Linked DNA regions of Homo sapiens: regions 2 and 3 are each linked to region 1. The links come from fine-mapping of genetic effects on gene expression. A gene starts in region 1. Each other region holds a variant in brackets. All regions are shown on one strand. Distances are between the middles of the regions.

The links. PIP is the estimated chance that this variant, and not a neighbour inherited with it, causes the effect.
Region 2: its variant is the best candidate, but not a certain one, in a credible set for the expression of LIN52 in nucleus accumbens (GTEx, PIP 0.89).
Region 3: its variant is the best candidate, but not a certain one, in a credible set for the expression of LIN52 in pancreas (GTEx, PIP 0.89).

The regions. Positions count from the first base shown.
Region 1 is chr14:74,078,825-74,089,449 of GRCh38, forward strand. It overlaps LIN52 (lin-52 DREAM MuvB core complex component), which reads left to right and starts at 6,132. Exons shown (of 6, transcript NM_001024674.3): 1 at 6,132-6,169. The coding sequence starts at 6,151. It overlaps ALDH6A1 (aldehyde dehydrogenase 6 family member A1), which reads right to left and starts at 5,629. Exons shown (of 12, transcript NM_005589.4): 1 at 5,523-5,629. The coding sequence starts at 5,570. It also overlaps a transcript of BBOF1 not described here. RefSeq lists enhancers at 6,041-6,220, 7,161-7,250.
Region 2 is chr14:74,195,050-74,205,674 of GRCh38, forward strand. It overlaps LIN52 (lin-52 DREAM MuvB core complex component), which reads left to right. Exons shown (of 6, transcript NM_001024674.3): 6 at 3,873-6,444. The coding sequence ends at 3,928. Among named protein-coding and RNA genes, the nearest start is that of VSX2, 39 kb to the right of the region's middle. RefSeq lists a silencer at 7,124-7,324. The variant A/G (reference allele first, on the strand shown) is at 5,225.
Region 3 is chr14:74,160,908-74,171,532 of GRCh38, forward strand. All of the region lies in intron 5 of LIN52 (lin-52 DREAM MuvB core complex component), which reads left to right. Among named protein-coding and RNA genes, the nearest start is that of VSX2, 73 kb to the right of the region's middle. The variant A/C (reference allele first, on the strand shown) is at 4,147.

The sequences.
Region 1 (10,625 bases):
GGCCACATTTTTGTATTTTTAGTAGAGACAGTGTTTCACCTTGTTGGCCAGGTTGGTCTCGAACTCCTGACCTCAGGTGATCTGACCATCTTGGCCTCCCAAAGTGCTGGGATTACAGGGGTGAGCCACCCCACCAGGCTGCCATTAACTCTTTAAGTTTCCCAAGGCTTGGTCCTAGGCCTTCTTTTCTTCTCATTCTGTATATGCTCCTTGGGTGATTTTATCAACTCTCATGGCTTAACTATCTAGATCCTGATGATGCCCAACTCTTTAGTCCTTGGCCAGTATTTTCCTCTTCAGGTGATACCCACGTAATTATCTTTACCACATCTCTATTTGGATGTTACTTGGGCACATGTTAAAAAAAGGTGGCTGGGCACAGTAGCTCACGCCTGTAATCCCAGCACTTTGGGAGGCTGAGGTGGGAAGATCACTTGCGTTCAGGAATTTGAGACCTGCCTGCACTCAATGGAGTACAATGGCGCAATCTCGGCTCACTGCAACCTCCACCTCCCGGGTTCAGGCGATTCTCCTGCCTCAGCCTCCTGAGTAGCTGGGATTACAGGCATATGCCACCACACCCGGCTAATTTTTTTTTCTTATTGTTTTTTTTTTTTTTCTTTTTTTGAGACAGAGTCTCACTCTGTCGCCCAGGCTGGAGTGCAGTTGCGCGATCTTGGCTCACCGCAAGCTCCGCCTCCTGGGTTCACACCTTCTCCTGCCTCAGCCTCTTGAGTAACTGGGACTACAGGCGCCCGCCACCATGCCTGGCTAGTTTTTTGTATTTTTAGTAGAGATGGGGTTTCACCATGTTAGCCAGGATGGTCTCGATCTCCTGACCTCATGATCCGCCCGCCTCAGCCTCCCAAAGTGCTGGGATTACAGGCGTGAGCCACTGCGCCTGGCCTAATTTTTTGTATTTTTAGTGGAGATGCGGTTTTGTCATGTTGGCCAGGCTGGTCTTGAACTCCTGGCCTCAAATGATCTGCCCACCTTGGCCTCCCAAAGTTCTGGGATGACAGGTGTGAGCCACGACATGTGACCTCTACGGATAATTTTAAAAATTAGTTGGGCATGGTCATGTGCACCTGTGGTCCCAGGTACTTGGGAGGCTAAGGCAGGAGGATCACCTAAGCCTTGGAGATTGAGGCTACAGTGAGCTGCGATTGTGCCACTGCACTCCAGCCTGGGTGACAGAGCGAGACCCTATCTTAAAAAAACAAAAACCAAAAAACAAAAGCAAAAGCTAAACTCTGCATCTTCCTTTTGCCAGTTTGCTATGCCTCCTATAGCCCACCTCTCGGTAAATAGGGCTACTCCTTAACAAGTTGCCAAAGGAGAAACCCAGATACTATTCCAATTCCTCCCTCTCTCTCTGCAGGGAAGCAAAAAACTCCTGGCAGTCTGTCCTAGAATTGTTTGAAACACATCACTCACCTCTAGCTGTCCTGCCATTATCCCAGTCTATACCATCATTGTCTCTCACTTGACCTTCCATAATAGCTTCCTAACACATCTCTCAGCCTCTAATGTTAAACTCTTTCTTTTTTTTTTTTTTTTTGAGACAGAGTCTCACTCTGTCACCCAGGCTAGAGTGCAGTGGCACAACCACAGCTCACTGTAGCCTCAATCTCCAGGGCTTAGGTGATCCTCCTGCCTTAGCCTCCCAAGTACCTGGGACCACAGGTGCACACGACCTCGCTCTCAGGCTCAAGTGATCCTCTTGCCTCAGTCTCCCAAGTACCTAGGAGTACAGGCACATGCCACCATGCCCAGCTAATTAAAAAAAATTTTTTTTTGTAGAGATGGGGCCTCCCTATCTTGCCAGGGCTGGTTTTGAACTCTTAGCCTCAAGCGATCCTCCTGCCTGGGCCACCCAAAGTGTTGGGATTACAGGCATGAGCCATCACACCCAGCCTACTCTTAAACTTTCTGAATCTAGTTTCCATCCCATAATCAGAGGGTCTTTCTGAAACATAAATCTGGTCAGATTATTCCCTTGTTTAAAATTCTTCTTTGGCTTTCCACTGCCCTTGGAATAAAGACTAATCCCCTTGATGTTGCTTAGAAAACGCTACATAGTATCTTTGCTTTTCTAGTTACATAACTGGCTACTTTCCTCCCTGTTCTCTATGCTCCTGCAATTTAACGTGTGTCTTGCTTTCTTTGCTCTTGCACATGCTGCTCTCTCTTGCCTGGCACTGTTTCATCTAATTTCCTTGGCTCATTCCTACTCCTTTAGGTCCCCACTCAGCCATCATCACTTTCTCTAGGAAGTCTCAACCTCAGGTCTATGGTAAGCAGCTGATTGTGAAGCTCATAAAGCACCCAAATTCCTTTATTTCTCATCTCACGCTATGAAATAATAGCTTGTCTAATGATTAACTTTCTCTCCTTTGAGGTCACTAGATTGTTGTGTCCCCAGCCCCTAGCACAATTCCTGGAAGAGAGTAAGTACTTAGTAAGCAATATTTTGCACAATGAAAGAATGAGTACTCGCCAAGCAATCATTTGATATTGTTTCAGTACTCTCAAGTTGGCAGACAATGCACTGATCAGCCAACTTGAGCATTCTAGGCCACTTAAATTTTATTTTTTCACTTGTATACAGCCTCCCTGCTGTTAAGAGGATGTAAAAAGCACTACATCTGGTATAATAGAACATATTCATATAGTTTTTTGACAGGTTCGATCTTCTATCTTTTCTTCATTTCCTAAGAAACACCCATTAGCATTGTTGCTGAAGAAACTATCCTGTGGCCAGTCACCCCAAACTGCTGCTCTCTAGATGTTTACTTCCTACTTGCTATATCCTTTATAAGGAACTCCTTCCTCTCCTGGTTCATGGCCTGCTAGTCCTGCAATACTTGGCTCTTTCCCTAGGTCCCCACAGTATCCCAGATACTCCTATTGTTTATCACTTATTGCAGTACAATAAAGGAGCTTTCAGTGAGCATTTTACTGTAAGCCTATGTCAGTGCCTAACATAGAAAGAGATGGCAAGACTTAAGTTCTGAATTTTCAGCCCCATCAGTTACTAGTTCGGTAACCATATCACCGACAGTGCAAGTCGCTACATCTCTTCAAGAGTAATTTTCTTGCCCAGGTGCAGCGGTTCGTGCCTGTAGTCCCAACACTTTGGGAGGCTGAGGTGGGAGGATAGCTTGAGTTTAAGAGTTCAAGACCAGCCTGGGCAACATGGTGAAACCCTGTCTCTACAAAAAATACAAAAATTAGCTGGCATGGGGGCACGATCTGTTGTTGCAGCTACTCGGAGGGCTGAGATGGAAGAATCACTTCAGCGTGGGAGGTCGAGGCTGCTGTGAGTTGTGATTGCACCACTGCACTCCAGCCTGGGTGACAGAGCGAGACCCTGTCTCGAACATTCCTTTATCTCTGCATGGGAGTGATAATATCACAAGGAGCAGAGAGAGGTTTTAGGTTAAGTTTGACTACTCTTCGTGGCAGAGAAAAATAAGCTGAATACTTAAAATAATTGAAAACATTAACTTTCTCCTCTATAAATCCTTTTGATAGTTCTCTAATATTCATGGCTGCCAAAATCGAGGTTTTTTTTTTTTTTTTTTTTTTTTTTGATGGAGTCTTGCTCTGTCGCCCAGGCTGGAGTGCAATGGCACGATCTCAGCTCACTGCAACCTCCGTCTTCCGGGTTCAAGCGATTCTCCTGCCTCAACTTCCTGAGTAGCTGGGATTACAGTCGCCCGCCACCACACCCGGCTAATTTTTGTATTTTTAGTAGAGAAGGGGTTTTACCATGTTGGTCAGGCTGGTCTCGAACTCCTGACCTCAGGTGATCCACCCACCTTGGCCTCCCAAAGTGCAGGGATTACAGGCAGGAGCTACAGCGCCTGGCCCGTAGGCTACTTTTTATCGAACTTTTAATCAAAGATTCACGTTACAACTCCTAGTTGGCTGAGGATTACTCTATCTGTTCTTTTCCAGGTCACTTCAGAAGTTTCTCCAAATGAATCAGAAAATACATAGTGTCTGTTTCTGAAATAAAAGTACATGGAAAGAGAGATTCTTCTCCTTGATGGAAAAGGACAAAATACTTTCTTAAGGTTCTCAATGACTCATTGTGATGGGAGGGGAAGAGGAGGCAAAGGAAAAAAGCCAATTTCAGTAAAAGATTTCAAGAAGTTGGTAAGAAAAATATAGGGTGGAAACTTTGTTTTCCTGCTACTAAAAAAAGATACTAGAACAGAACAAGGATCGCAGCAAGAAATATGAGTGAGGCCAGACCATCTGCCAAACCCTTCAAACTCATCCTTTCTACCTTCCCCATTAAATAGCATATTTAAAAATGAATCTTTGCTGACTCTGCCAAGAATCTTAAAACTGCCCAAGTTTCTTTACTAGAACTCACGGAAACCTGGTGAATACTAATATTACCTAAAAGCTCAGCAATATAGAGGAAATTCTCAGACTGGATGTAATGAATAAGAACGGCACTGTTGTTTCTTGCAGACTGTTTCTTGCCTGCGGTAAATCTTGCCACATACTCTAAATCCTTGGTAGGCCATGAACAGGGGAAAGACTATAAACAGAGTTGGAGATTACAGGCCTCAGGCATGCAACTCCTGTAGCTTTACCATTTCTCCTTAGGTTGGCTTCAGAGAGGACTCAATCCCCCAAGTGCAGAGATGAGGGTGTGTAGCACTAGAAGAGCTGATTTTGGGGTGGGAACTTAGACTTCTTGTCTTACCTGGCTCCCACTTTCTATCACCCGTTTTAAAGATGTTTGGTACCTTGAACATACATGGAACATACTGGTAGCTTTAACTGTGTGCCCTTATCTACCCTATCTATGTAGATGTGCCCTATCTATGTAAACTGTAACTTAGCTGAGAAAAAGTTTAACTCAAAGTTTTGGCAAGAAAGGGGACAGCCAGTCCATGGAAAATACAAAGAGCCACACTTAGGGAAAATAGCTTAGCAAATGGCTGCCTTTGGTGAAAATCTAGAGTCCACCTCTAGAAGGAAATTCAAAGTTCATACACTGACCCTCGCCCCTCGCGTCCCCCCTCCCCCTTACCTCAGATCACCACGGATAGTGAAGTAGGGTGGGGGAAGGGAGCAATGGCAAAGTGGACGCTCACGGCAGGGGACAGAGTAACCAAAAAGAGTAGTTTCTGGGGGAGAGAGAGAAGGCTGGTGCAGAGGTAAAAAGGAAAGACGGTGGGCGGATGGAGAGATGAGGGCAAGAGAGTGACAGCAGGGAGCGGGCAGAGCTGGAGAAGGAGAGTGGGCGAGAGCCAGAAAAGAGGAGGCTTAGGAGTAAAAGGGTAGAGGGCCAAGGGTAACAGCCCAGGGTTGGATCCGGGACCAGGGAGGTTATGAAGTGAGGGCTGGGCATGGGACAGGGCCGCACAGGTCGGGTAGGAGGTCTGGCCAAAAAGGGGTTGGGCCAAGAAGGTGGTCCCGCCCGAGGATGGCTCAGGGAGCGGACGGAAAGGATCCAATTCCTAGCTTCATGGTGCCTTGGCACCACCCTCACTCGCCTGCAGGATCCGGGCTCGCACTGCCGCCGCCGCCAATAGCGCCGCCATGGCTCTCGGCCGCCCTAGCTCCGCACCCCGCGCCTCTACTGCCCAGAAGCACTACAGCTGCCAGGCCTCGCCCTCCATCCTGCCAGGCTTCCTCATTGGTGGGGAGGACTATTTTCTCCAGCCAATCACTGGTCCGAACACCTGATTCCTCTCCTCACACCCCCGTCCTGGGGATAAGTGATTGGTTAGGAGCGAAAATGCTCTCGCCCTCTGCCACCTCAGCCAATGACGTAGGCGGAGGTAGAGAAGACGCCCCTGACTTGGACACTCCCTACCGAGCACACGGGGAAGACGCCCCCCTAACCTGGAACTCCGATTGGCCAAGGGCGGAACCGAGGCCCCACCCCCCCACTGAAAAAAGTAAATAAGACCCTTCAAGAATTTTGCAGTCGCTCCACCTCAACATCCGCGTAAGGGGCGTGGCTATACTTAGGGGCGGGGCTAGGCAAAGATTGCCCTATGAGGCGAGGGAATGAGACTGGGCTGCGAGTTGGGGATAGGGTTTCTCTTTGGGGGCGTGGCTTATGGAACCTCGTTTTCCCGCCGACGGTTGGCCACGTCACGTGACATGGGTTGGAAGATGGCGTCTCCCACAGACGGTAAGAGCCGGCTTAGAGATCTTTGCCTGCAGCCTCCTTCTTTGCTCTACTGGGAACATCCACTCTGTCTCTGCCCCTCGAACATACATTTCTTTCTTGGGCTCTTCTCCTTTCCCTTTTATTTTTTTTCTTGAGATCCATCGCCGTCTTCAGCTCACCGGTTCTTCACAGCAGCTCCGGAGGTGCCCAGTTTCCCCGCTCTGTACCAGGCGTGTGGAGGAGGGCACTAGGGAGGGACTCATTCTGGGTAAAAGGACAGGGGGGTCGCCCTGTGCCTTCCTTATCTCTATTTGGGCGAGGCTGAGGGTCGAGGAGGAGATGTTTCTGGAGGACGTGGCTTACTGTAGTTTTTTCCTTGGGGTACCCATTGAAAGGATCAGTTCTCTTCTGATTGAGCGCACGGATGGAATGATTCTCACAAACCCTCGCAGGGCTGCTGGCTGACCTCATCTCGATACTGAACCGCAAGAGAAACATGATCTCTCTCCTGTCTCCTCAGTTTGGGACCATTGCCGTGGCAGCAAGAGAAGCGGGGGACGTTCTCGGCCCCTCGCCCTGAGAGTCGCGAGGAGAATCAGTATTGAGCTTTTAAGTGTCGTCTTGCACAGGTCGCAACCTGTCTTCCATCTGCTTTACGTGTTGTTTCTTAAGGCTGAGTGAATTAACGATTTCTGTTTATATATTGTGTAAAATGCAAGTCATTTCAAGTAACAATTAAGTTGTTTTGGTATACTCCCATGCTTTTCCTCTTGGTTCTGCTTTAGAGAGTTAGGGTCTTGCAGTCATTTTTAAACTCATTTTTAGTTCTACCATCCTCATCCCAACTATATATCGATTTTATTGATATATAGGTTTCCTTCCCTTAGACAAAAACATTTTATATTTGGAAGGAATCTTGGAAGTTCATTGCAGGAATGAAGAAATTGAAGCCAAGGTGAGCTATATTAAGTACCTGCTACATGAAAGGCATAATGCTAGGTGCTTTGGGAGACCAAAAGATGACTCAAACATATAAACATTTTTTTTTTTCAGTTTCAGTTCTCTTTTTAGATGTCACCTCCCAAAGAGTCTTTCTTAGAACACAGTATCTGGAGTTGCCCTTTCCCACCATTATTCATTATCTCAGTATCTTCCTTGTCAGCATAGTTACTCTGTTAACTTTGCCCCTTTTGCGCTAGATTGTAAATTCCAAGTTTGTCTTGTTCATAGTTGGATCCAGGTTTAGCACAGTGCCTGACGAACAGTAGGTCTTTAATTAACATTTATTGAAAGATTGATTAGATATATGCAGAAATAATATATTACTTGATCTTAAGTTTTAAGTTTAACCGAGTCTTAAATTTTGTGAGCGCAGGTACATACTGTATTAGAAATTATGGCTGGGCGTGGTGGTTCACACTTCTAATCCCAGCACTTTGGGAGGCTGAGGCAGGCAGATCGCCTGAGCTCAGGAATTGAAGACCAGCCTAGACAACATGGTGAAACCCCATCTCTACAAAAAAATACAAAAATTATCTGGGTGTGATGCCACAAACCTGTAGTCCCAGCTACTTGGGGGGGCTGAGGCAAGAGAATCTCTTGAGCCCAGGGGGTGGAGGCGGCAGTGAACCATGTTCATGCCACTGCACTCCAGTCTGTGTGACAAAGCGAGACCCCGTCTCAGAAAAAAAAGAAGGAAAAAAAAAGAAATTATGGATGTTTGGAGTCAAAAGAGATTCTCCTGCCTGGGTGCGCTCTTGCAAAAATGTCCTTCTCTTGCCAGAAAGAAGGGCATTTAAAAAGTCAGGCAAGGGAATAGGGAGTTATTGTTAATGGGTACCAAATTTCAGTTTGGGAAGGTGAAAGAATTCTGGAAATGAATGTGATGATTGCACAATTAATGTACTTAATACCACTGAAATGTATACTTAAAAGTTATTAAAATGGTAAAATTTATGTATATTTCACCACAGTTGAAAAAAAAAGCCAAGTAATACAAGTAGAAGTAATTGTTATTAAACTTTTTAGTTTATTTTTAAATTGTTTTTACAAACTTTGGGGATTTTAGAGATGTGTTCCTTGAGTTTGATTTTTTTCCCCTGTCATCTCTCAATTTAGTTTCCTTTCTTTGGCCAGGAAGAGTATTAAAAACATTAAATTTGGCTTGGCGTGGTGGCTCACGCCTGTAATCCCAGCACTTTGGGAGGGCGAGATGGGTGGATCACGAGGTCAGGAGATCGAGACCATCCTGGCTAACACAGTGAAACCCTGTCTCTACTAAAAAATACAAAAAATTAGCCAGGCGTGGTGGTGGGTGCCTGTAGTCCCAGCTACTCAGGAGGCTGAGGCAGGAGAATGGCGTGAACCCGGGAGGCAGAGCTTGCAGTGAGCCGAGATCACGCCACTGCACTCCAGCCTGGGACAGAGCGAGACTCCATTGCAAAAAAAAAAAAAAAAAAAAAAATTAAATTTTTTTCCTTTTCTAGCCATCTCTATGGTCACTTTATTTGCACTCTTGATTTTTAAGTTTTCATTCTCATCTCTTACAAAGTTTCACTCCTCTCCACCTAATGTTTTCTTTTTAATCTGAAAAAATCAAGTCAAGCACTTTGAACTTAAATTCAGCTTCTAAATAAGTATCTCATTCCAAAATATTCCACGGCCTAGCTCTTTCACTTCTATTTTTAGTGTTCCACCTGTCACTGTCTTTAAAATTTAATTCAGATAATATTTATTTTAATATGTTTGTCATTTACTCTTTTGTCTTTTTCGTGATAAATTTGCTGGAGCGTCTTTGAAAAGGAGAAAACTGAAATTCAAATACAGCCATCTAATTACTTAATTTATGAGAGTAAGACTCACAGCAGAGTCTGAGTTCTATCCCAGACTGTGGTATCATAAGGTCACCCATGTAGGTTATTAGATTGTACCCCCAATAATTTTTTTTTAACTTTCTTTTAGAGACAGGGTCTCTCTCACTCTATTGCCCATGCTGAAATGCAGTGATATGATTATAGCTCACTGCACCCTCAAAGGCTCAAGCGATTCTCCCATCTCAGCCTCCTAAGTAGCTGGTACTATAGGCTCACACCACCATGCCCAGCTAATTTATTATTATTATTATTTATTTTGTTTTGAGACGGAGTCTCACTCTGTCACCCAGGCTGGAGTGCTGTGGCATGATCTCGGGTCACTGCAACCTCCGCCTCCTGGGTTCAAGTAATTCTCATGCATCAGCCTCTCCAGTAGCTGGGATAACAGGCACACGCCACCACACCTGGCTAATTTTTGTATTTTGAGTAGAGACGGGGTTTCACCATGTTGCCCAGGCTAGTCTTGAACTCCTGACCTCAGGTGATGCACTCACCTCGGCCTCCCAAAGTGCTAGGATTACAGGCGTGAGCCACCATGCCCCCACCTTATTATTTTTTGTAGAGATGGAGTCTCACTATGTTGCCCAGGATGGTCTCAAACTCCTGGGCTCAAGCAATCTTCCTGCCTCGGCTTCCCAAAGCACTGGGATTCCAGACATGAGCCACTGTACCTGGCCCAATAACTTTACTTTTGTTATGGTTGAACATTCCTCAGAAATCGGTAACAAAGAGAAGCTAATTTTTGGATGCTTTAATTAAGGCAATGTATTAGTTGAGTTCTTTACAATTAAAATGCCATTGGAAATTCCTTTGGAATATTTGGCAAAACAAATTCAGTTTAGAGAAAAGTACATTTTGTACGTATGTATATTTTCTGGGGAGTGAGTTCATTTTATTTCCCAGATTTCCAGAGATGTGGTTACCCAGAAAATGTTAAGAACTGCTGTTTATAGCATTAAATGAACTAGTTATGCAACTGGTTAGCATACTGAGCATACAATAAAAACTCAACAAATGTTAATATTGAGTACTACTGTGTGCAAGGGAAGAGTGGAAGAGAAATGATGTCAAAGAATTAGGTAGAGGCTGAGTAAGATTTTATAGAGTGTGGTAGATACACATTCACAGATTTAGCTGGGAGGAACTTTAAGCTGGAGAGAGACACGAACTGATTGACGTTTAAAAAAATCAATTCTGGCCTCTTTATGGAGAATAGATTCCGGGGGTGTGAAGGGGAAAGGGTAAGAATGGGAGCAGAGAGATCTGTTAAGAGGCTGTTGAAGTAGTCCAAGAAAGAAGTGATGGTTCCTTGGGTTATTTGATTTCAGGGTGTATTCTGAAGGTAGAAACGACTAGATTTACTCATGGATTGGTTATGGAAGGGTGAAGGAAAAGAATGCATGAAGGATGACATCTGGGTTTTTGATCTGAGAATTGGAATTTATGGTAGTGTTATTTCTTGAGATGGGAGAAGATTGGGGGAATATGGTTTTGAAGATAATTAGGTTTAAAGTTTAAGTGGGGATTTTTTTTTTTTTTTTGAGACAGGATGTGGCTCTATCACCCAGGCTGGAGTGCAGTGGTGTGACCTTAGCTAACTGCAG
Region 2 (10,625 bases), 120 kb after region 1:
GCAGGAGAATCACTTGAACCGGGGAGGCAGAGGTTGCAGTGAGCTGAGATTGCAACATTGCACTCCAACCTGGGCAACAAGAGCGAGACTCTGTTTCAAAAAAAAAGAAAATAGTTGACAGATTTCACTGACTCTATATAACACTCTCTCTCTCCCAATCTTGTTGTGTCTAGAATTGTTTTCTATATAATATAATACATTATGGGGAACAAAGAAAAAGGAGAAAATGGAGGAACTGGGAGTGCCAAGCTGAAGAACATGTAGTCTTACTCTGGCCATTCATCCTAGAATTATACCAAGCTACAACCATTGTGAAGAAGAAGGGACAGAACCAGGCAGTGGGGAATAGAAATGGCTTTCTCTTCTCTGTAAGCAGGCAGTAGTCATCTCTAAAGATTTTTCCCCAAAGAGATTTGAAATTCCTGATGGGAGCTTAAAAAGCTAAGAGTAAAATACATTTATTTATAAGACCCTACTAGAAGAGGTGTGTGTGGGTGTGTGTGTGTATGTGTGTGTGTGTGTGTGTGCGCGTGTAGACGAGGAATACAGAATAGTAGCAGAAGGCTGTCTCCCTACTCCTAATGGGATTTTGTAGCAGTATGTGCAAGTTTGTTTCAGAAGTCAAAAATGAACAGATGTTAGTATAAATTACCTCTGTGTCTGATGTCTTGCAAATTAAAAGCGCAGTTGGCATCACTAAACAATTTCACTAGGTTTGGGGGGGTTCGGTTAGCGGGCGGTGATTACTGTAGCAGGTCGGTAAGAATCTTCGCCCTGCAGCAGAGCAAGGATAAAGAAATGAGGAATAAAATAAGGGCTATATGAATTAATCAGAAATGTTAACATCTCTGATGACAAGTGAACAGGAGGGCACGTGCTCTGGAGCAGCCCCTGACCCACAGCAATTTCTCTGTGCACAAAAAGGGGTTGGTGCTTAGCATCTGATTTATAGGGCACAGCCCTCTTTTAGGGAGCGGCTGTGTCATACATTCGTATATCTCCTGTATGGGACTGGCGAGTAGGAAAACTTTCTCTCCTCCCATGTAGGAGATGATGTCTTTTGAATTACTTCTACTTTTACAGTGGTTTCCTGCAGCTCTGTGTACTTGGATTAGGTTGAAGGGGGAGGAATGATTGAGTAGAAAAAGGGTTGTTAAAAAGGATTGGTTAAATTCAAGGAGAGCTTGCCACTGAGAGACTTCAGAATATCTATTTATTTTTCCTTTTAAACCCTTTTGACCCCTTAAATTGTGTGGATCTTTTAAAATTCTAAGTCTTAAAATATTGGTCATTTTCCCATTTGGGGAAAAACAGTAAGGAGTTGGTGAGTCTGAAGGTCAGCAGGCAGAAATCATTGGTTAGAGCAATGCAGTGCTCCAGGCCCAGGATTTTTGGAACAAGGCTCTATTCTCTCCAGAAGACTTTTGTATTGACCGTGTCTGGTTTCCAGAGCTCCTGCTTCTAGCCATGTTGCAGGATCATTAGTTACATGTTTAAACTTGAGAGTAGACAGATAACCCATCTAGTAGAAATAAGTGAGACCCAATCTGCCCAAAAGTATAAGTAAATTTCTTTTCCTTCAAGCTGAGGGAAAAGATTCCAAGGAACGGAGTTTTGTTTGCTAGCCTCCCTTTGTGCAGTTTGTTCATTCATTCATTCATTCATTCACTCACTCAGAAAATACTAAGTGCGAGAGAACTTACCCCCCTCTGGAAAGTGTTGTGTTAATGATTAGCACTATACCAAGCATGTTCATTGCTAATATCCAAGAGAAAAGTAGGGTATTAACATGCTCTCCGTTACAAATGAAGAGACTGAGGCTCAGAGATCTGCCCAGCCCAAGGTGTCACCCTGCTGCTAAGTGCTAGAGCTGAAACTTAAACTGAGTTCAAATCCTGTGTTCTCTGCAAGAAGCCCATGCTACCTCCTATGGGCAAGACAGTACTTGATTGGATTTTCTCTAGAGTAGTTAGTCCTTGACCCCAGTCTCTCCATGAACTTGGCATTATTTGCATTAAGGGAAATGATTTTCTTGCCAAATAAGCAAGGCACATTTAAAAAGACTCCCATCATGTAGAGAATGGAGCACTGAGGGCCACTAACTAGTCATATTTGTTAATGGAAAGGAAGGAAACTAACATTTTTTGCATTTCTACTTGGTTCTAGTTCTTTGGTGTATTATAATTTATCCAGTCAACACTTACTCAGCAGACACTAGGTCTGCTGAGTCTGTAGCAGGTCGGTAAGAATCTTCGCAGTGCAGCAGAGCAAGGATAAAGAAATGAGGAATAAAATAAGGGCTATATGAATTAATCAGAAATGTTAACATCTCTGATGACAAGTGAACAGGAGAGCACGTGCTCTGGAGTTTGGATCTGATTGTGGATCTTTTGCCAAGGGAGAGAAGACCAAAGCTCTTAACAGTCTCTGCCTTCAGTTTTTACATTTTAGTGGAGGAAGACAACCATATAAGCTAGTAATTGCATGCAAGTCTTATGGGAACTTTCTTGTACAGGATTTGCTGTAAATCCATGAAGGAAGGAATGGTCTGTTTGATTTGGTCTGGGTTGGGGTTGTGAGCACATGAGGCAAGACCCAACACTGGGCTTCTATGCCTAGTTAATGGAATTTCCTTTCCCTTTGTTGGGGCACAGGAACTAGTGAAAGATGGGGAATGTATAGACTGAAGTTACAAAAGCCTCCCTGTGGTCCCAGAGGTTGTGTAGTTTTTATTTCTTCATTGTACAAGAAAACAAGAAACTGTTAAACTTAAATTGGGGCAGAGGGGAGCTGGAGGCCATTCATCTAGCTCCATTTGCTCTGGACTTGGGAAAGGCAACAAGGAGGCCAGGGTGAAGGTCCTTCTCATTCCTGAGAGTGCCTCCCTAGCCACCTCACTTCTTTGGCCAGGACGGAGATGTGTTCTTGGGAGACCACACAGCCTACCCCGTGCCTACTGCATGGTTCCAGAAGGCCTGGCTTCCAGAGCCAGCCATCAGCGATCAGAAACTTTCTGCACTGTTAAATCCATTTAAGAAATCTGAAAACATGGCCTTGCAGGATGAGGATGAGGATGAGGAAGGGGCTGTTACACTACGTATGCTTTCTGAGATCTAAAATGGGAGACCTCTGGAGTAGCCCTTGTAATTGAGAAATGTTTTACTTTCATTTTGGAGCCTTATATGTAGGAAAGTAGCTGTATAAACCCACTTGTAACTATAGCATTCAAAGATTGATGGTGCTGAAAGCCGGAGAAAGACACATAAACCTTGGCTGGCTATATTAAATAGCTAAGGACTGACAATGCCAAGGGAGAGAAGACCAAAGCTCTATAAACCCTACTTTATGACACCATCCACAGATGAACTGCACTGAGGGAATATAAACCCTGTTATATTACAGTATCCAGGGACTAACACTGCTGAGAGATAGGGTAAATGATCTCTAATTTTGATTTGAGATTATAAATGTCCAGAGACCAGCAACCCAGAGAAGACTAATCTTGGTTGGATTTTAGGCTTCAAGAGCAAACCCCCTGAGATAGTGAACATGAGTATTAGGTTAGATTCTAGAGACAGAGATAGGTTTTGGGGGAATCCCCTGGTGATTTGTTTAAAGGTGGATGATAAAATCTTTCCCAGTCATTTGGCATGTATCTCAATTGCCAACTTCAGAATAGCTTTGTACAGTTTTAGTTGTCTATAGTGGTTTGTTTTTACCCCCTTTTAGGTTAGTTGGTGATGATTGAATCTGTTGTGATAGCAACTTGATATATAATTTAAATCAATCTGCATTTTTAAATTAAATCTTCCTATGATTCTTTTTTCCGATTTTAGGTTTTCATTGATCATTTGTTTGCTTTGTGATTCCAGCCAGAGAGATGACACGGGGGAAATTCCTCAATATTCTAGAGAAGCCCAAGAAGTAGCAGCTGCTTGCGGACAGGATGTCCTGGGGTCCGAAACCAAGCTCCCTTCCCGGTGCACCTCTAACAATGCACACCTCACTGCTTGCTTGGGAGAGGCCAGAGGGTGTACCTCCAGGACTGCCCTCTCCCCTGCTCCTGGCACTCTACACGTCTGAGGACATTCAGCAGCAAGAGAAGAATCTGCTCTACCCAAGGATCATTGCAGTTACTCAATCAACTTTCAGACTTGAACCTTCTTAGCCTCGGATATTGGTAACAGCTGAGGGCATATCATTCTTAAAGGTCGAAGTCCTGCTTTCTCATTTCTGGAAGTGATTCAGGAGCCCCAGGATCTTACGGTTGATTTGACTCAGTCATGGCAGTCAGTTGTGACATGTTGATTGGATGGGTTCTTTTGAATTGTTCTTGATCTCTTAGAAAGTGTTTACGATGTGAGGAGACCAGAGACCAAGTAGATTCTGGACCAGACCATGCAGCCTGACCTGTGAACTCTCCAGTATATACTAAGTTCCCAGAATCCCCAGCTGAAGAAACCAGAATCTTCTCGAAATGTATATCTGTTTTTTAAAACTTCTATACCTCTTATGATAGTCCCATTTGCTTTTCATTCCTTACTTCCCAGCCCCACCTTCTAGTTCTGACTTCGGGCAGAGGGATCCCTGAGTCCCTCCTGGAATTAGCTTGTATAGTGAAAGGCCCATCCAAGGTTGTCTAAAGACCAATGTGAAGGTGACAGAAAGGACTTTTGAGTTCTAATTAATCTGTTACAGCTTCAAGCAAGAAAGTCAGTATAGCCTGAAAGACAAGAGAAACGGGATGGTTTATAGGAGTTCCCATTTGGTTGAAAGCTAGAAGCCCTAATTGACCTTAAAGTAACATGCTATGGGATGGTGGGATTGTCCCCTCTGACAGCACATATGAAATAGTTCATCTATATAATAGAAACGCACACACACGAAAAAGAATCTTCTGACTTAAATACAACTTTCATGGAGTTCTTCACCACTTATCTGTCTCTGTTAAAATCTGAAAATCTAGCCCATGGCTAAAATCTATTATATGTGTTCTCCATATTTCTTGTATAAGCCAGTCCCCAGCATCTGATGTTTTGAGAAGTGCATGGAGTTTCCTAAACTTTGCACAAAAGAATATCCTGGGGCCGGGCATGGTGGCTCACGCCTGTAATCCCAGCACTTTGGGAGGCCGAGGCAGGTGGATCATAGGTCAAAAGATCGAGACCATCCTGGCCAATATGGTGAAACCCTGTCTCTACTAAAATACAAAAATTAGCTGGGC[A/G]TGATGGTGCATGCCTATAGTCCCAGCTACTTGGGGGCCTGAGGCACGAGAATCGCTTGAATTCGGGAGGTGGAGGTTGCAGTGAGCCGAAATTATGCCACTGCACTCCAGCCTGGGCAACAGAGTGAGACTCTGTCTCAGAAAAAAAAAAAAAAAAAAAAAAAAAAAAAGAATATCCCTGTGGCAATAGTCTGATGGTGTTTGGACACAAGAAAAGTTATGGTTTTGAGTCGTGAGTGTTTGCTAGGGCATGGCACTCTTCAGTTTAACAGCTGATCCATTAAACCTTTTCTGACATTTGTGCCTTGTTCTCATGCTAGAATTAATGCTGGATTTTTCTCTCATTTGACCATCAATGTAGTTTTACTTATTGAAAGGAAAAAAGACTTAACACAAGATAGGAAAGATGAGTATGAGAAGTAAAACATTCTGCTGGGGTGCTACATAGAAGGTTAGGTTGTAGGGGCTTTGATTTTAATTTAAACTTATTATCGATTGATATTTCTGTATCTCACTAAATGCGGTTGAAGAGTGTGTGTGTGTGTGTGCGCGCGCGCATGTGGCCAAAAAATAGTGCCATAATGTCAAATTCTTCCTTTGCTCTGTTTTTGAGAGTTGATGACATCAGGCACTTTTCAGTGTTTGGGGAAATTGATTGGGATACCTCCCCCAAACCAACTCAAGTCTGTAACTGGAAGCCAGGTGGTTGGTTTTCTGGTCCGCTTTGTCCTCTTTCTTTTACCGTCATCCTATTCACCAGCACTTAATGTAAGTAGATGTTTTAGAATTGCAATATTTATTGGTTTAGTATTTGTCATCCTTAGAAATGTTAATGATGTATTTTTATATTGATAATATAAATTTATGTACAGTATGTGTGTATATGTATTTCAGGATGTTATAGTATTGTACTTTGTATGTGATGGTTTTTGTGTCTTCATAATAAATATGTCCCTTTTACAGGAGGGTGAGTTTTTCCTCAGAGGGCCGAGTTGGATATTTAAAGCACAGACCTCCCCAGAAAGTACAACTGTAATGATAAATAATCTACTGTTTTCCCCCTTAATATACTTAATGGATAGTTGGGGGCTTTACAGTCATCTACTTGGTCTCCTGCCTTCCATTCTATCCTACCACTGCCCAACACCCGAAAGTAGTATTTAGAAACCCTTAATACCTTCCCGTGTCTACTAATAAAGTCTCAATCTCTTGACCCGGCATTTTAAGACTCTCTACATGTAATCCTAAGCAACCCTTCCGTTTCGTTTTCTTCCTCTCCTATATATGAAGTCTCTGTTGCAGTTACTCTGAACAGTTCCCAGTTTCTCACTTGAGTGCCTTTGCTCCTGCCTTTGAGTTCCTAGAAGGTCTTGGATCCCTTTTGCATCTGGCAAACCTATGCTTCCTATAATCTCCTGATGATCCAGCTGGAAATGGTCCTTCCCCTACATTCCTATAGCATTTACCCATATCATCCCTGTGACTCTTACCATAGTCTGCCTTATATTTAAGTGGTCTGAGTACTTTTTCTTTTTGAGACAGAGTCTCACTCTGTTGCCCAGGCTGGAGTGCAGTGGTGCAATTTTGGCTCACTGCAACCTCTGCCTCCCGGGTTCAAGCGATTCTCTGCCTCAGCCACCCTAGTAGCTGGGATTACAGGTGCATGCCACCACGCCCAGCTAATTTTTGTATTTTTAGTAGAGACGGGTTTTTGCCAAGTTGGCCAGGCTGGTCTCGAACTCCTGGCCTCAAGTGATCCTCCCGCCTCGGCCTCCCAAAGTGCTGGGATTACAGGTGTGAGCCACTACGCCTGACACTGAGTACATATCTTATTGCCCTACTAAATTCAAAGCTTCTCAAGGTATAGCTGTCTCCTGCACATCTAGTTCTTCAGTGTCTTTGAACTAGGGGTTCAAAACCTGTTTGCTTGCAGGCTTCTGGTTACACATGATAGATTGAAAACAAGTATTTATCTGCCATCTTCTAAATCCCTTAGTGTGGGTTCCTTTTCAACCATGTTCAAGAACTAGAAAAGAGGAAGTACTCATTATTGCTACTGCTATCACTCATTGATAGTTTACCTGCTCTGGACCAGAATATGCCCTTTTAAAGAAAGCATTTCATTTTAAGGAAAGCAAATTGCTTCTCATCATAGGCCCATCATTTATTTCCAAAAAAGACATCTGGATGAACAGTAGATTTCTGTGATCTAGAAAAGCATGGCTGATTGACTAAGTAGGGACAGTGTTAGGAGTGTTCTAAGTCTTTAGAGACTATTTTTACGGTAAGTAATTGTTTATTATTTGCCTACAGATATTTTTTCCCTTTTCCTTTGCCATTCCAAATACCATCCTGTAAAGCATCTGTCAGCTGTGAGCAGCAACATTCTGAAAAGCATAGTATTGGAGCTTGGAGACACATTTGCAAATTCTTATTGACATTTTTTTCTTACCAGCACTCTCATTATTTCTTGCTGTCTTCAGTCTCACAGATTCTAGGCCTCTGCTGATTTGCTTGGCCTGCCTTCCATAGGTTAGAACACTTAAAGTTCACAGGGTATTAATTGTGTTGATATTGAAATGCCATCATTCATTTTTATCTTTCCATTTTTGTCATATTTTTTAAATGGATGCTTGCTAACTGCTCCGTGGTTTTAGTTCTCTAGCTGCTCTTCTGGATGCTCCCAGATCAAGGCAGTGAAAATGGAACTGATGAAAGTCATTCCCTTGTCCCTGTGGCTTCAGAAGTGTGTTTGGACTTCCACAGGAGCTTTGAAATGAAGCCGAGAAATTTCATTTCCAGTGGGATTCCCTGACCCCTCCTGTTTCCTCCAGGATTAAGACATCACAAGAAGGTGAACAGGCAGAGCAGGAAGTGAGGAAATGGACAGTTGGGCCAAGGTGGATGGTCGCAGAAGCCAAATAACACAGTCTCTTACCAGTTCTCAGCTTCTGCACTAACTCCGTCTCCAAGAATTTGGTTATGTTCTCCATTTTCTGTTTTCTTCATCTCGTGAGAGCTACAAGGATACCTGGTCCCTATGTGGGCTTTGTTTCACCAGAGAGTCTTGCAACCCCCAACCCCAGAGAGTGGCAAAGGGTGGTGTCTCCACGGTTGTAAGTTCTGATGGACTGGAACTGATTTTTCCTATCTATGTAGGCTTTTTGGCATTTGGGGTGTGTGTCCTTGTCTATGCCTAAAGAGGCCACTGGCCTTCCCACCCTTTGCCTGGCGCTTTTTCCTCTCGAGCAGCTGGGGGCTTCAGACGATACCAGGTGTAACTGTGAGGCTCCTGGTTGGCGTGAGTGCTGGCAAAGCCTGTTAATTAGCACAGAAACACCCCAGTGCTCCATTAGCTGGGCCAGGCATTTGGAACCTTCCCCTCCTGTGGGCCCCTTCCTCCTAATGAGAGCTGGAAGAAGGGCCCTCACAAAACACTGCCTCAGAATAATATTCTGCTTTGTCCCCACCAGTAACCAGGGCTGACAGGATCACTCTGTCCATTTCTCTTCTAATTAGCACAATTCCAGCATGGCCTGAGCCAGCAAATAGAGAAAAGCGATCAAAAGCGATCGGACAACCGTACCGAATCACAAACACAAAGAGGGCCATTCCCTGTAATTAGGTGAGACAATTCCTCAGTCTTTTCTCGGCTGGAGTTTGCCGCTAAGACTCTTGCTGTTTGGGTCCCAGCAACACAAGTTACATGTCTCCCTGGGACACTAATAAGCCCCAAATTGTCTTCCGCTTCACACAACTCTACCCAGAGGACAGACATGGGGTGGTGGGGCAGGTGGCGGGGAGGGGGTGGGGCAGTGCAGTGAGGGGACGGGTCTCCCAACAAGCAGCTGCTGCAATGTTTCCCCAACTTCAAGAAGCAGACACTGGGGCTGTGGGCAGAGAGGTAAGAGTCAGTTGGCTTGAGAGAACTGCTCTTGGCACAGCCTGGCCCCTGTCACTTGAGCTGGAGTCTGAAGCACTGAGAATTTCTGACCCTCAGGGGAAGCCCCCTCTCAGCTATTTGCCCTACTCTGTTCATTCGCTGCCTCCTGTCTATGGCCCCCTCACTCCTCCCACCTCTGCAGACTGGTAGCATCACTCCAGGAACTACATTGAGCCCTTCACAAACTGTAAGCCCTACACAACTATAGTTACCATTGCAAAGAAAGCTAACACACAGCACGTGAGTGAATTCTGCCCTAGAAGACTGCATGACCTGGAAGGGGCACCCACTGCCCCCCTCACTCTGGCCTTCATTTCTAGCACCCATCACCTTTATGTCCCTGATTGTGTCCCCAACCCCTGCCTACTATCTCCTCTCTCCTGAAAGATCCCTGTTTTTTTAAAACAGAAAAGTGGCCCATCTGCCAGGGCAAGAAGCTGTAACTGGCCGCGCTCCATGTGGCTCAGAGGTTGGTCACTTAATGAACAAAAACAGCTCCCCCAGGATTGCAGCCCATTACGGGGATTACTTGGGGCGATACAGCCGTAAACTTGGTCATAGCCAGGGACAAAGGAATGCAGGGGAGAGTGGCAGTTGGAATCTCAATTAAACCCAAGTTCGGAGCAGAATTGGGCTCACATATTTTCATCTCTCTCTTGCCCTCTGCTTTCTGTCTCGATCTCTATACCTGATGTTTCTGAAAGTGACCTCCAATACCAAAGGAGATTCAGTTATGTAGAATCTGAGGAGCCAAAAAACTCAAGTAATCAGAGTTGCATTGTTTTTCTACCTTCAGTTTTCTGAGGCACAGAGAGGATAATGATAAGATTTGACTTTTAAAAATAACTTTTGGGACATGCCAAAGAATTGATCCAAATTTGTTCAATTTCCTACAGTTTCTTTGGTTATAAACAGAACTACCTGGCACATAATAGGTGCTAAAATAAGCATTTGTTGAAAGAATGAACTGTGCCTTGACATTCGGTGTTCATAGCCTCATTGCTGGTCTAAGATATAGTAAGTGCTTGGATTTTGAGAGAGAGGCAGGGGTGATCTTGTGTAAGTTACTTCTCTCTAAGCCTTGGTTTCCTTAGGACTTTTTCCACTTTAAAGAGTCATATCAGCATCATGGATAAGGGCACAGGCTCTGAAGTCAGGCTGCCTGGGTGCAAATAGCACCTAACTACTAGGGTAGCTGTAGAGATTAAACGAGTATTGCAAAGTGTTGAGAATGGTGCATGGCATATCTTACCCATTACGTATATAATTGCTTGATGGATAGATCTATAAAACAGATTCCATGTAGTATTTAATTTTTTATTATACTCACATTTGTTAAAAATTGACAATCCCTAGGCCGGACATGGTGGCTCACACCTGTAATCCCAGCACTTTGGGAGGCTGAGGCGGGTGGATCACTTGAAGTCAGGAGTTCAAGACCAGCCTGGCCAACATGGC
Region 3 (10,625 bases), 82 kb after region 1:
TAATCAGGTTATTTCATCTTTTGCGTTCTCGTCAGCCACTAATCTTGTAATTTTATCTTAACAAAATACAGAACTTGCTTTGACATAGTTTGTTCTTTACTCATCATGTTTTTCAGTACATAGAACTTATGGTTTGGGTAACCTTATATTCATGATTGTCTTAACATTAGGATTTGGGGATAGACCTTAATTAGTATCACATTGTGTTTCATATATTTGGTCTTTTAGGGTAATCATATTAGCCAAGAACAGTCAGGAGTAATTTGAACAGGGAAAAATTTATTTATTTATTTATTTATGACAGAGTCTCACTCTGTTGCCCATGCTGGAGTGCAGTGCATGATCTCGGCTCACTGCAACCTCCGCCTCCTGGGTTCAAGCGATTCTCCTGCCTCAACCTCCCAAGTAGCTGGGACTACAGGCATGCACCACCATGCCCAGCTAATTTTTGTATTTTTAGTAGAGATGAGATTTTGCCACATTGGCCAGGCTGGTCTCAAACTCCTGACCTCAGGTGATCCACCCTCCTTGGCCTCTCAAAAGTGCTGGGATTACCGGCGTCAGCCACCGTGCCCGGTCTGAACAGGGAAAATTTAAAATAAAAAATGTTAATTAGGTGAAAGGTGGTTAACTTCTGAAAGGAAAAGAAGAGTCAACGGTGTACAGAGGTAGCAGAAAGCTGCTAACCCCTAGGACTGAAGGAGAGTCAACAGAGGAACTTAGTGGAGGTCCCCACAAGGCTGAGGTTCAGCCCTCTGAAGGGAAAACACATGGCCACGGGAACACTCTGCCGGTGCATTGCCGGAGCAGCCCACCTGATGGCAGTGAAGAATCTTTGGGGGAGGGAGCCCCACCACTGAACTGTAAGGACTGCCATTGCCAAGGTGAACATAGCTGAGACCCTGCACGCCAACCTGCTTGTCGCTGCACAGAAGAGCCACACGGTGCAAGAAGGAAGAAAAGGCCTTTTTCCTGCCTCAGCTTTGCAGCCTCCCTCCAGTGCCCTTTATTGGCAAAGCAAAGCACCAGGCTAAGTGACAGAGAAGAAATGTAGCCTGCTGTTGGGTCCAACTCCAGTATCACAAAGCAGGGCAAAGGGTGAGTTAGGAAGCGAGAGACAGTAAATGGATAACTGGCACAGTGAGTAAAATTTTTGTGTAACTTTAAATATTACAAGTTAACTTTATTTTGCATCATGGGGTTGATAACTATCATTCAATTAACAGGTTTTAACAAAATTTTCAAAAATAAAAAATCTGACAGTAATTGGAAGATAACAAAGCATAAGTGTGAATAAAAAATTGCCGCCTGTAATCCCAGCACTTTGGGAGGCTGAGGTGGACAGATCATTTGAGATCAGGAGTTTGAGACTAGCGTGGCCAATATGGTGAAATCTCGTCTCTACTAAAAATACAAAAATTAGCTGGGCTTGGTGGTGCACACCTGTAATCCCAGCTGCTTGGGAGGCTGGGGCAGGAGAATCGCTTGAAACCAGGAGATGTAGGTTGCAGTGAGAGGAAATCGCCACTGTACTCCAGCCTGAGCAACAAAGCAAGACTCCATCTCACAAAAAAAAAAAAAAAAAAAAGATTGCTCTCCCACCCTCTTAGCCACATTGAATTTTCTTACTTTCCTTATTTATTTATTTTTTTATTGAAAAAAAAATATTAGAGATGGGGTATCATTATGTTGCCCAGGCTGGTCTCAAACTCATGGGCTCAAGGGATCCACCCACCTCATCCACCAAAAGTGCTGAGATTACAGGTGTGAGCCACTGCGCCCAGCCGAATTTTCTTAATTTCATGTATGACTAATTTTCTCTTCTAATCATTTCATTTTTCTTGAATTGTTATATTCTCTCCCAACTTTTCTCTTTTTAACGACATTGAGCTCTCCTCTTCCTGTCTTCCATTAGCACCTTTCCTAACAACCTTATTTGTTCTTCAATTGTTATTTATGCTTGTCTTCTCAGCTAAATTGTAAGGCCCTTGTAGTGAACTCAGGGACTGTGCTTTATATTACTTCTGTATATTACAGAATAGGACTATACGAATGCATGTTGAATAGATGGAATCATTTTATATTTACAATTAAGTAAGAAAATGGAAACATAGCCATCAAAGCAGTCAAGGAACAGGTAGGCACTTACCCTTTCTATTCTCCCTTGCTACCTTCTTTTTTGTTCTTGTTTTGAGACGGGGTCTGGCTCTGTCTGCAGGCTTGGAGTACAGTGGTACAATCTCAGCTCACTGCAGCCTCAACCTCCTGGGCTCAAGCCATCCTTTCACCTCAGCCTCCAGGTAGCTGGGACTACAGGTGCACACCACCATGCCCAGCTAATTTTTGTATTTTTGTAGAGACGGGGTTTCACCATATTGCCCGGGCTGGTCTCAAACTTCTTACCTCAAGCAATCCATCCACCTCTCTGCCTCCCAAAGTGTTTGGGTTACAAGCGTGAGCCACTGCACCCAGCCTCCGTTGCTACTTTTTCAGAAGCTATTAATAGTCTGCCAGTTGTCTCTCGCTCTCTAGAAAGAATATAGCTAACATTAGAAATGTAAAAACAAAACCAAGGTAGGAGTGGGGGGGATGACAAAACAGTTATAATCATGGAAAAAGCTAAAGACATCTGAAGTGAAAAATAAATGTGGAGGGCACTTTAAGGTTAATGATGGTTTTAATGTACACTCTGGCTTTTCTTTCGAAACCCTACTAAAACAATTTTTTTAAAAAATATAAGAGCCCTCAAGGAGAGAACAAGAGAGATGACAACAGCAGCAAGATTTTGGAAGGTGGAAAGTATGTGAATTTAGCAAGCCTATGAAAAATAATACAAAGTGAGGAAAGCCAAGAACCAAGGCAGTTCACGAAACTTCAAAGGCTGAAGATTGGTGGTACAGGTGAAGGAGGAGATGGCTTAAATAAGGAGGATTAAAGTGTATTTAGGAGTCACATACCTATATCACCTGCTTTATTCTCTCCCACAAAAGACTGGAGCTTTATTCTCTAAAGTTAAAACACAATGGTTACTCAACCGGTGGATACTAGACCAGTGGAAGATGGGGTCTGTACTGAAATTTTTTTTTTTTTTTGAGACAGAGACTCGTGCTGTCGACCAGGCTGGAGTGCAGTGGCGCAATCTCGGCTCACTGCAAGCTCCGCCTCCCGGGTTCACGCCATTCTCCTGCCTCAGCCTCCGGAGTAGCTGGGACTACAGGTGCCCGCCACCATGCCCGGCTAATTTTTTGTATTTTTAGTAGAGATGGGGTTTCACCGTATTAGCTAGGATGGTCTCCATCTTCTGACCTCGTGATCCGCCTGCCTCGGCCTCCCAAAGTGCTGGGATTACAGGCGTGAGCCACTGCGCCCAGCCGTTTTTGTTTTTTTTTGCTTTTGAGACAGGGTCTCACTCTGTCACCTAGGCTGGAGTGGAGTGACACGATCTCGGCTCACTGCAACCTCTGTCTCCTGGGTTCAAGGGATTCTCCCATCTCAGCCTCCTGAGTAGCTGGGAGTACAGGCAGGCACCACCATGCCCAGCTAATTTTTATATTTTTTGGTAGAGACAGGGTTTCACCATGTTGTCCAGGCTGGTCTCGAACTCCTGACTTCAAGTGATCCGCCTGCTTCGGGCTCCCAAAGTGCTGGGATTACAGGTGTGAGCCACCATGCCCGGCCTGCACTGAAAATGTAGCAAATTATGCACGCATTATATGCTGAGGCCATCTCTCCCTCCACACCCAGGCCTTCACTCTCCGGTCAGGAAATTAGAAGAGACTAATCTGGGGAATCTGATCAGCCCAAGAAGAATAAAGGCACTGACACTGGAAGTTCTACAACTAAACAGCCTGATCACACTGTAGCAAAGCTTACAGTCAACAAGCCTAGCTCCTACTTGAGTTTTCAAGCAGCTTTTTAGTCTCCTATTCTTACATAGGAAAAGAAATTACCAATGTTTGAGAAAAGCCCCTAAAATGAAAAATAAGGACTGAAGGCAATGAATGGAAGGCAACTTGGAGAAAACAGAATATGCCTTCAAGAAGGTAAAATTGATAAATCGCATGATTTACCACGTTTCAATATCTTAAGTTTAGACAGCAGACAGACATAGTCGATTCTGTGGTTGATTTAGAGATAAGTACAGAG[A/C]AAACCAAGCAAACTGAAAAACTCAGGGAAAACAAAAAAAAATGTGCAAGTAAGGAAAAGTAATCATAGTTAATAATATGCCTTAGCTATAAATAGTATTTGTATAATCATAATAATGTAGAAACTGAATGTTAATTTAAGTTACCATGTATAACCCTGAGAAGATAGGAGATAGGATGCATGTCATGTGTATTATGAGGAATTAAGGTGGGAAGGGGGAAAAAAAGAGTCAAGTTATCACTTCCTGTATTGGGGGAAGTCAATAGAAAATGCCTCAAATTGAAAAATCAGGAGGTAGCAATACAGGCACTTTTTTTTTCATTCCTTTGGTTCATTCCTAGGAATACAGGCATATTATTTAGTCATTTAAGACATAAAGGTAATATAAAAGAATCAGCTAAACAGAGTGAAAGTGATTGCCATGGGAAGGAGTTAATGGAGAATTACAGGTTTTCTTTTCTTTTTTTTTTTTTTTGAGACAGAGTCTCAGTCACCCAGACTGAAGTACACAGTGGCACAATCTTGGCTCCCTGCAACCTCCATCTCCAGGGTTCAAGCGATTCTCCTGCCTCAGCTTCCCAAGTAGCTGGGATTACAGGCACATGCCACCACGCCTGACTAATTTTTGTATTTTTGATAGAGATGGGGTTTCACCATGTTGGCCAGGGTGCTATCGAACTCCTGGCCTCAAGTGATCCGCCCACCTCCGCCTCCCAAAGTGTTGGGATTACAGGTGTGAGCCACTGTGCTGGGCCTATTTTCTTATTAAACATTGTTTAGCCTTGTTTCCAAAAATGTTACAATATCCAGTCTCTGTCCCTCCGATTACCTATTTCACCAATTTTTTTTTTTTTTGAGACAGAGTTTCGTTCTTCTTGCCCAGGCTAGGGTGCAATGGCATGATCTCAGCTCACCGCAACTTCCACCTCCCGGCTTCAAGCAATTCTCCTGCCTCAGCTTCCTGAGTAGCTGGGATTACAGGCATGCGCCACCATTCCCGGCTAATTTTGTATTTTTACTGGAGACGGGGTTTCTCCATGTTGATCAGGCTGGTCTCGAACTCCTGACCTCAGGTGATCTGCCCACCTCAGCCTCCCAAAGTGCTGGGATTACAGGCGTGAGCCACTGCGCCCAGCTATTTCATCTATTTTTAACAATTAAGTTATTTTTTATTTTTTTTAAGACAGAGTTTTGCTCTCGTTGCCCAGGTTGGAGTGCAATGGCGCGATCTCAGCTCACCGCAACCTCCGCCTCCTGACTTCAAGCGATTCTCCTGTCTCAGCCTCTAGAGTAGCTGGGATTATAGACATGCGCCACCACGCTGGCTAATTTTGCATTTTTAGTAGAGATGGGGTTTCTCCGTGTTGGTCAGGCTGGTCGCGAACTCCTGACCTCAGGTGATCCGCCCACTTGCCTCCCAAAGTGCTGGGATTACAGGCATGAGCCACCGCGCCCGGCCAAGATCTTTAAATTAAAACGTTATTGCTCACATATTTTCAGTTTTGTGTCATGAAATCTGTGTGCCCAAAAAATCCAAAATATATAATTCATTTTCTGGGTGGGAAGCAACTATATTTCTGTCTCATGATGGGAAATAGAACCCAAAATTCAAGGCTTTAGCAATATGTTGATCACACAGTTTGATTAAGGAATTTCACTTTTTCCCATCTTTTTCCCTTGGTGTAAGGGGTATTTTCCTGAATATCTAGCTGGATTGCAATTCACTTGGGAAAAAATAAAATTCTATGCCAATTTTCATTATTAAGGTCCTCTAAATATTGACCTCTGGTAATTGGTAGGTTTTGGTGGATGGAATTTTACTTTTTTGACATGACATTGAATTGTACATTTAGCACTGGGTCTGGGTGTTCTCTCTGGGGAGAGTGGAATTGATGGTTCTTTTTTCTGTCAGTCCCAGGTGGCCTGTCAGGAGAGCAGGTGTTGCTGGGATGGTGCATGCATTCAAGAGTCATAGTGCAAATCTCATCAAGGCATGTATCCCCAAACCACTCAGGCTGGTATCTCTCCTGGGGAAGAGGCCAACACTGGCCTCTGCTGCTTTTTTTTTTTTTTTTTTTTAGAAAAAGAAAGAAAAACTAATTATCAACGTGCAGCAAATGTCATTCAACTCAAATCCATGAAGGATAAAAGCATAGGAGACAAATGTTCCTGGAGACAGGGTTGAGCTGTCACTTGTCTTTTTAATGGATTGTTGTTTGGCTATAGAATCACATGTTATTTTATCTAATGGTGTATTTCATCTGAAGAAATACTGAATAGAATTGTACCATTTTCATAACCCCTCTGGGTTTGAACAGAATCCTAGCATCAAGGAAGATATAAGAGGTTATTTTCATTGCTCTTAAAACATTCAGGGGACGGGTGTTTATTGACTTAGTCAATAGTTGGCTAATGTTGGCCAGGCTGGTCTCAAACTCCTGACCTCAAGTGATCCACCCGCCTCAGCCTCCCAAAGTGTTGGGATTACAGGTGTGAGCCACCATGCCTGGCCTATGTCCAGAAATTCTTAACATGTAACCCAATTCACTCAGGTTTTAGATTAAGTATGTTTCCTTTTACTCTAAATGCTATTTGACAAGTGAAGTATTGTCCCTAATACTGCACCTATTTTTTCTTTTTTCAGTTTTTATATTTTTTATAGAGATGGGGGAGGGTCTCACTATGTTGCCTAGGCTGGAATTGAACTCTTGAACTCAAGCAGTCCTCCTGCCTCAGCCTCCTGAGTAACTAGGACCACAGGTGTAAGCCAGTGAGCCTGGCTTCCTTTCTTTTACTTACAGTTATTATATTCCATTTATCTACCTTGACTACACCATGGGCAGTTGGGCAGTGATCTTTGTTACATTTCAGAGGGCAGAATTAGGAACAATGAGAAGTTAGAGAGAAGTTGGATTTTGTTTTGGGGTTTGTTTATTTGTTTTGCCACACTCTTGGAAGAACTTTCCAAATGTCCAAGAATTAAATGGACCCTCAAGAAGTACTGAGTTTCCTATCAGTGGTAATGCTCAGGCAGAGCTCTGCAATTAACTATAGAATGTTATGAGATACTGCAGGTTATTAGGTGGGAGTTTAGATCAGATATTCTTTTCAACTACATGAATTAAGGATTCTATTATTTTTGCTTTCAACAGAAGATATACAAAATAAACAGCCAGTGTCCATCTTGAATTGCACCATTGTTTATAATATTTCTGTTTTTTTAATCTTACAGTCCTCTCTGTTATAACAGTTATTACTTATTAATGGAGATAGCAATGCTATTAGTACTTGTATTGAATTAGTAAGTGTTCTGATAGAAAAATTAACCAGCTTTGCCGGGCGCGGTGGCTCACGCCTGTAGTCCCAGCACTTTGGGAGGCTGAGGCAGGTGGATCACGAGGTCAGGAGATCGAGACCATCCTGGCTAACATGGTGAAACCCCATCTCTACTAAAAATACAAAAAATTAGCCAGGCGTGGTGGTGGGTGCCTGTAGTCCCAGCTACTCGGGAGGCTGAGGCAGGAGAATGGTGTGAACCCAGGAGGCGGAGCTTGCAGTGAGCAGAGATTGTGCCACTGCACTCCAGCCTGGGTGACAGAGTGAGACTCCGTCTCAGAAAAAAAAAAGAAAAATTAACCAGCTTTTCAAACAGCATTTAGAGTAAAAGGAAACATACTTAATCTAATACCTGAGTGAACTGGGTTACATGTTAAGAATTTCTGGACATAGGCCAGGTGTGGTGGCTCACACCTGTAATCCCAAAACTTTGGGAGGCTGAGGCAGTCGGATCACTTGAGGTCAGGAGTTTGAGACACCTGGCCATCATGGCAAAACCCCATCTCTACTAAAAATACAAAAATTAGCGGGGCATGGTGGCGCGTGCCCAGCTACTTGGGAGGCTGAGGCAGGAGAATCGCCTGAACCTGGGAGGTGGAGTTTCCAGTGTGCCGAGATCACGCCAGTGTACTCCAGCCTGGGCAACAGAGTGTGACTCTTGTCTCAAAATAAAAAAGAATTTCCGGAGAGAAAGGAATGTTAAAATTTGGAAACTCTTTTTTGGGCCTTGAAAATGAAGCACATTTTCATATCTGGGCTGTCTCACTGACTTGAGCCTTACCTTAGTGACTGTTTCTAAAATGTCTTCTTTTCACACATCCCCAGTCCACATTTCTTTTTCTACTGTTTCAAGAGAAGTTCCCTTTTACCAGTAATATCTAGACTATCTTGAGTAAACCTTCTTCTTTAATATCAAAATCCTTTTGTCTCTTTTCTCCTCCCTTTTTCCCAATTCCAAGAAGTATCCTTTCTCTTAAGAGTTACCTTCCTTTTCTGTGTATTCTGGTTGCTGTTTTCTGGTGACTTGTAAGGAACCTTCAGCCTTATTTCCATGTTTTTTCCCCTCTCTCCAGCATCATAAGTCTATTCCTCTTCCAACATCATTTTCTCTCCAACATTTCCAGTGGAAGGGATCTCATTTCCATTGCCAGACAATTAGAATCATCCCAGTAGAATTCTCCCATCTCTCTACTTCTCTTAATTTATAGCCACAGTTGTTATTTATGATGTTAGTTGCAATACAGAAAGAAAGCAAATTTCTCTCACACATAAATAGTTCAATGTATTTGAAGAGATCTATCATAGTACCCCCTTTTAAAACTTGTTCATGTTGCCAATCATGTGTTTCTGTTTTTTCAAAATTAGAGCTTATATTATGCCTCAGACACTATTAGATTCTAGGATCTCAAAGATAAAACATCTGTGAGATACTTATCCAGTGAGGGACAGTCATGTAATCAGATAACTGTATTTCATTGTAAAAGAAGTTTGTGTGAAGTTCATGGCTGACATGATGGAAGGAATAAGCAGCTCTGCCTGAGTGGGGGTTTCAGGAAAAGCTTCACAGAAGAGACACTGGAAGCTGGGTCTTGAAGAGCACATAAAAATCTGCCAGATGGACATCAGCAGTACTGGAATACGAAAGAGGGGAGGAGTGATGGGCCTGTTTAAGTAATTAGAATAACGTGGACAGGAACAGAAGTGTGAAGTCACATGGTGCATTTGAAGACCTGCTAGTTGTTCCTGTGTAGCAGGAGCATATGGAAGAAAAGCAAGAGACAAAGTTGTTCATTAGATGTGAGCTCCATGAGAGCCAGGACCTCACCTGGCCCATTCGTTATTGTATCCACATTGCCTAGTGCATAACAGATGCTTAGTAAATATCCAGTGAATAAATAAATAAAGAGGTAGGTAAGGGCCAGATCTAGAAGTGATTTTTGTCTAAATTCCACAAAGACTGACTTTTTTTGCTCTTTTAGGACTTGTATATCTTCTATAGGTTCTTAAGCATAATTATTAATGGGCATTTGTGTGTTTTTGGGGTAAATATGAACTATTAAATTATTTGATTACCTGCCAGAACTCGTAGTGCCACATTTTGCCAAATTACCAACCTCAAAAAAAAAAATGGAAATAATTTTTATTGAGGTGAACTCTATAATACCCTGTTTAACTTTATAGAAGTTGCCTTGGAGTTTAAATGTTCCATTTTCTCCCTGATTAAAAAAGGAAGAGATAGAAAAGTTAGAGGTTTTTATTTTTTTAGTTTGATGTTTCATATTAGACTACAGTGTGATATATTATAGTTTCTATAAGCAGTAGAAACTATAAAGATAGATATAAACTGTCCAGAATTAAGTACTGAGAGAAAAATATTAAAAGCAAAATTAATAGAACCTTGATATTGTGGGACAATATCAAGCAGTTTAACATACCTGTAACTAGAGTTCCAGAAGGAAAGGAGTTAGGTACAGGCCAGAAAAAAAAAAAAATTTTTAAGACATAAATGATCCCAGGCATGGTGGTTCACACCTGTAATCCCACACTTAGAGATACTGTGGCTGGTATATTGCTTGAGCCCAGGAGTTTGAGACAAGCCTGGGCAACATAGTGAGACTCCGTCTGTACCAAAAAAAAAAAAAAAAATTAGCTTGGTGTACTCTATATCTTTAACATGTTTCTGAAAAATTCTGCCATTAAATGAAAGGTACTGGCCAGGCATAGTGGCTCATGCCTATAATCCTAACACTTTGAGAGGCTGAGGTGGGTGGATCACTTGAGCCCAGGAGACCAGCCTGGACAACATAGCAAGATTCCATCTGTAAAAAAAAATTTGCCAGGTGTGGTAGCATGCACCTATAGACCCAGCTACTTGGGAGACTGAGGCAGGAGGATTGCTTTGAAGGTCAAGGCTGCAGTGAGCTACAATTGTAACACTACACTCCAGCCTAGGTGACAGAGTGAGAGCCTGTCTAAAAAAAAAAAAAAACCCAAACAAAAGTCTGTTGTATTTTTTACACCAGAAACAATTAGAAAATAATGTTTCAGAAAGATGATTTTCCCAGTCGTAGTAAGAATATAAAGTACATTAAGTTTTAATCTACAAAAAATTTTAGTGGAAAAAAATTGTAAATTTTATTGAC